Linked DNA regions of Homo sapiens: region 2 is linked to region 1. The links come from fine-mapping of genetic effects on gene expression. A gene starts in region 1. The other region holds a variant in brackets. All regions are shown on one strand. Distances are between the middles of the regions. Region 1 holds the start of SUPT20H (SPT20 homolog, SAGA complex component). Region 2 overlaps SUPT20H (SPT20 homolog, SAGA complex component).

What was found. PIP is the estimated chance that this variant, and not a neighbour inherited with it, causes the effect.
Region 2: its variant is fine-mapped to the expression of SUPT20H in whole blood (INTERVAL, PIP 0.97).

What each region holds. Positions count from the first base shown.
Region 1 is chr13:37,058,470-37,061,388 of GRCh38, reverse strand. SUPT20H (SPT20 homolog, SAGA complex component) reads left to right here and starts at 1,701. Exons shown (of 26, transcript NM_001014286.3): 1 at 1,701-1,830. RefSeq lists a silencer at 1,530-1,789.
Region 2 is chr13:37,036,228-37,039,146 of GRCh38, reverse strand. The region is part of intron 9 of SUPT20H (SPT20 homolog, SAGA complex component); the gene reads left to right. Among named protein-coding and RNA genes, the nearest start is that of SUPT20H, 22 kb to the left of the region's middle. The variant T/C (reference allele first, on the strand shown) is at 1,315.

The DNA.
Region 1 (2,919 bases):
GAAAAGACAACCTACAGAATGGGAGAAAGTATCCACCAATGATATATCTCATAAGGGTCTAATATCCAGAATATATGACTACACATAACTAACAACAAAAACACAAACAACTCAATTTAAAAATGGGGAAATACCTGAATAGAGAGTTCTCCAAAGAAGATATACAAATGGCTAACAAGGGCATGAAAAGATGCTCAAGATAACTAGCCATTAGGGAATGCAAATCAAACCCACAATAAAATACCACTTTATACCCTTTGGGATGGTTACTATCAAAGGAATAGAAAATTATGGTGTTAGTGAGGATGTGGAGAAATTGGAATCCCCCGACAATGCTCTTGGTATGTAAAATGAATGGTTCAGCTGCTGTAGAAACATTTGTTTATGGGTTCCTCAAATATTTTCACGTAGAATTACTATAAGACCCAGAAGTTCCACTATGTTTATACCCAAAAGAATTGAAAACAGGGACTCGAACAAATACTTGTATACAAATGTTCATATCATTGCTATTCACAATAGCCCGAAAGTGGAAACAACCCAAATGTCCATCAGTGGATGGACAGGTAAAACTGTGGCATCTAGGTACAGTGGAATAGTAGCCATAAAGAGACATGAAGTACCGATACATGCAACAAGGTGTACAAGGTGAACCTGCAAAAGATTATGCTACGAAGACAGACCAAAAGGTCACACATTCCATTTATATGAAATATCCGTAATAGGTACCACAGTTTGAAAGCTGATTGGCATTTGCCAGGGGCTGAGAGAGGGAGGAATGGGAGTAACCACTTAATGTGTTCGGATTTTATTTTGGAGTGTACTTTAATACACTTATAATGTGTGCAACCACTAACTCTAATTCCAAGACACTTTCATTCATTATGACCCTTGGCATTGTGAACGGCAAATAATAAATGCTCATTAAAAAGATTCACCCCAGGCCGTGCATGATGGCTCACGCCTGTAATCCCAGCACTTTGGGAGGCCAAGGCGGGTGGATCACTTGAGATGAGGAGTTCAAGAGCAGCCTGCCCAACATAGTGAAACAGTCTCTACTAAAAATACAAAAATTAGCCGGGTGTGGTGGTGCACGCCTATAATCCCAGCTACTCCGGAGACTGAGGCAGGGAGAATCGCTTGAACCCAGGAGGCAAAGGTTGCAGTTAGCTGAGATTTCTCCACTCCACTCCAGCCTGGGCGACAGAGCGAGACTCTGTCTGAAAAACAAACGAACAAACAAAACAAAACAGACCTTACAATGTGTGCTAGTAATGCGGTTTCTGAATTTTTAGAACCCTTCTCTGGGGTGGTTTTTTTAAAAACATAAACTCATTGGCAGTTGATATACTACAGAAGGTTGTACGCATTGGACTAGTAAATGTAGGTAACGGTGTCGCTGTTTTTCCATTTGTATGTGCTAAGCAAAGAGAAAAGCTAGTTCTATGTTTCTTCCACTCTAGAAATTCAACAGGGTCGTTTTTCCCCAAATTCACATCTACACCCTCCCTCCCACTTTGCGGACTCGGACTCCAGGATTGAGCAGAGATCCTGGGCCCCGCCTCCCGCCCGGACGCAAGTCTCTGCGGGCCTCACCGGCGTCCTGCGCGGAACGCAGCGCTCCAGGCTCCTGGCAGCGGCCCCGCCCTCCCGGCTCCTCCCCTTCCGCCCGCCTTCCCCGCCCCTCGGCCCAGCCTGCCAATCGGAAGTGCGGCCGCCGGAACTGGCTGTTGGTGGGGGTGCAGCACTGAGCCGCCGACGGGGCGGGTGGGCTTTGCTGCCGAGCAGGCGGCGCCGTCTTGGGGCCTAGCGGCGAGGCGACCCGCACAGGTGGGCGGTGGCGGTAGGTGGGTGGCCAGCGACTGGCAACGCGGTGGCTTAGACGCGCGAGATCCGGCCAGGGTCAGAGGTGAGCGGGCCGCATCCCAGAGCCCGCTGGAGGAAGACGGGGTCCCCAGAGACCCGGCAGGCCGGGGCGGAGGTTGAGGCAGCTAAACTCCAGGTGGACGCCTACATCGCCTTTCGCGGTGTTGCTAAGCCGAACTTTTAATTTTAGTTTGACTTTTGGGTTCCAGAGACGGGTATTTCCGGACACTGGCAAGAATTTTGCCTTGCGTGTCTTCGAAGGCGGTTTTCTTGGTGTCCATATTGCATAAAGGCTTGTCGCTCCTCTGTGGAGATGACGGTTGTACAGGTAAAGCCTAAGTTGTGACAAAAGCTCCTGCAATGGGAAGACTCTGGTCGATCAGGGAAATCAGTAGAATTGATAGCAACGCGTAGAATTGATAGCAACGCTTAGAATTGGATTAATTACTGGCCATGGTTACCCGGCGCTCAGAAATGAACTTGGAGAACAGTTGCCCTGGAAGCCATCTCCCGTAGCCACTGCGTAGTGGGGGCCGCGTCTTCTTGAGTGCAATTCATCAAAGTCTCTAGTAGGACTCAAAATATAAAGTGACGAGCAGGATTTTCGGAGTCGAGTACAGTGTACTTGGGTTGATCACCATGTTATAAAGTTAGATCCAAATTAAGAAATACATATTCGTCTCTGAGCAGAATTGGGTCCTTTTTTTAATTGCTTTGCTTTTTTTAAAGAAATGTAAAAACAGATGCCGGTTTGATTAGTTTGCAGGTTGTAATATTGGAAGGGACCTAAGATTGGACACAGAGTTCTGAATTCTGATCTAGGTCTGTGATGTTAGGAAAGTCAGTTGTTCTGATTGCCTTATTCTGTAAAACGGAAATGATAATGATTACAGTTTCCTCACAGGTTCTAGTAAATTCTGTGTATAGACAGAATGTTTGCTTTGTGAGAGATATGAAGTTATTAGTTTTTGTCTGAAGTACTTAAATAATTTAAAGTTAGTAAGCCCCCATCCCCAATTTAGTGACAAGAAATCTTAAAGTCATCACATTTTG
Region 2 (2,919 bases), 22 kb after region 1:
TTGTTTCTGCTGTTAATCATTGGTCCTCTTCAGTTAGGTTACAAACAAAATGAATTTTTTTCCTCGTAAATTGATGTGGAAGATCTGCTGCTGCAGGCTTCGTCTTCAACATAGTCTTGTCCCTTCTTAAAACAAGTTACCCATTTGTAAACTGCTGCTTTCTTTGAGGCATTCTTCTCATAAACTTTTCAAAAAGCATCAGTGATTTCACAATTCTTCCACTCAAGCTTCACCATCAATTTGATGTTTGTTCTTGCTTCAGTTTTAGCAGAATTCCTGTTGCTCTGGTAAAGGCTGTTTTCAAACTGATGTCTTATCCTTCTTAGTGTTTCAAACTAGGTTCTGTTCAGACATGTTATAACAGCTTAGTACATGTTTATTTTGGTGCAAAAAGTTTTGAAACCTATGTATAGTTTTTTCTTAATACTCATTTTTCATAAACTTTTTAAAGACCCCTTGTATATGAGATGTCCACTCACAAAAGTGTTCAGTTGCCTGACTATAGTGAGGAATAATTACTAAGTCAAAAGAAAATATCAGTAATGGTAGTTATCCTTTCTGTGACATGTGATTATAAACTAAGCTTCAGTTCATCAGTAACTACCAAGTATTGTGTTTTGGTTTGGGCTATAATGTTGTCATCTACAAAAAGATTAAAAGCTATTAAAAGAATATTAGAAAACAGAAAAACTCATTGGTTACCATCAGAGTTTGCTAGGGCATCAGATTCTTACTCTGAAGATTGATAAAGGAGAGAATATAATATTTATCCTGCCCTTCTTGTTATGAACTGTATTTTAGGCAGCCAAGTAACTGAGGGAAAATTCTTAGGAAAATTTCCAGCTAATAGGTGCAAAAGAAATGATAGACTTTTAAAAAATAAAAGTTTGAAAGTCTTAATGAAGTAGTGAATCTAGACAGCAGTATTTCTTGGATGTGAAAACCATTAGATGATAGGTTAATGGGAAATTTTATAATGTAGAAATCTGATCAAACCCACTGATTGAAGATGAGACAGTCAATTATTGTGTACCTCCTGGTTTGATGCAAGAGACAGTACACAACAGTAGTAATAGTACCAATAAAGAACTCTTGTCCAAAAAAAAAAAAAAGAGCCCATATTAAATCAAGCCACTAGTTGTAACTAGCAGTTTATAGGAATTCAGTGAATAAAATAAACTCTTAAGTGACACAATGAGGAAGAAACCAGCCAGATCTAGTTAATGGACATGAGAAAGCAACTGGTTAATTCTAACAAATTCTTATTTAGCAATATTATTAATTGATTCACTTTTTTAAAAAAAATAGCCTTAG[T/C]TATCAAGATATTTCAGAGGTTAAGCAAAATAATAGGATTCAGTAAAATATGTTATGTGATAATAGTAAAGAGCCTGTATGTTTGGAATTGGGTATATAGAGTTCACACAATATTAGCAGAGTCATTTTTATTCTTGTAATGTAGTTGAGTTGAGTATAGGATAGGACTGTTACTTCACAGTTACTGAAAAATGCCATAACCCTTTATGACCCTATAGGTTTTGTGAGAGCAGAGGGTTTTGTTTTGCTCACTACCTTATCCCCAGTTCCTGGAAAGGTGCCTAACACATCATAGGTGCTCAGATAGTTTCTTGAATTAATGAGTAGCCACTCTTACAACCTGACCATTCCGTGCTCTACAAATTATAGTCATACCTCGGAGTTACTGTGGGTTTGATTCCAGAGCACTGCCGTAAAGCAAATACTGCAATAAAGCAAGTCACATGAACTTTTTGGTTTCCTAGTCTATAAAAAGGTTACATTTACACTATATAGTTGACCTTGAACAACACAGAGGTTAGGGGCAGTGGCCCTTGTGCAGTCAAAAACCCATGTATAACTTCTGACTCCTCTAATACTTAACTACTAATACCTACTGTTGGCTGGGAAGCCTTACTGGATTTTTTTTTTTTTTTTTTGAGGCAGAGTCAGGTTGCAACTCAGGTTGCAGTGCATTGGCACAATCTCAGCTCACTGCAATCTCTGCCTCCTAGGCTCAAGTGATCCTCCCACCTCGGCCTCCTGAGTAGCTGGGACTATAGGTGCATGCCACCATGCCCAGCTAATTTTTTTTTATTTTTGGTAGAGACAGGATTTCACTGTGTTGCCCAGGCTGATCTCGAACTCCTGAGCTCAAGCGTTCTGCCCGCCTCGGACTCCCAAAGTACTGGGATTACAGATGTGAGCCACCATGCCTGGCGATTAACATGTATTTTGTATGTTATGTGTATTGTGCTCTGTATTCTTAGAATTAACTGTTAGAAAGAAAAGAAAACATTATTAAGAAAATCCTAAGAGAAAATATGTTTACTATTCAGTAAGTATATCATATTAAAGGTCTTCATCCTCATCATCTTCACATTGAGTAGGCCAAGGAGGAGGAAGAGGAAAAGTTCATCTTGCTGTCTCAGGGGTGCAAAGAGATAAAGAAGATGGAAGGGGAGGCAGAAGAGGCATGCACACTCAGTGTAACTTGTATTGAAAAAAATCTCCTAGCTGGTCGCAGTGGCTCACACCTGTAATTCCAGCACTTTGGGAGGCTGAGGCGGGTGGATCATGAGGGCAGGAGATCGAGACCATCCCGGCCAACATGGTGAAACCCCGTCTCTAAAAATACAGAAATTAGCTGGACATGGTGGCGTGCGCTTGTAGTCCCAGCTACTCAGGAAGCTGAGGCAGGAGAACTGTTTGAACCTAGGAGGTGGAGGTTGCGGTGAGCTGAGATCGCACCACTGCACTCCAACCTGGCGACAGAGCAAGACTCCGTCTCAAAGAAAAAAAAAAAACTCCAGTTTAAGTGGACCTGCATAGTTCAAATCCATGTTGTTCAGGAGTCAACTGTACTGTAGTCTATTAAGGGTGCCATAGCATTATGTTTAAAAAAAA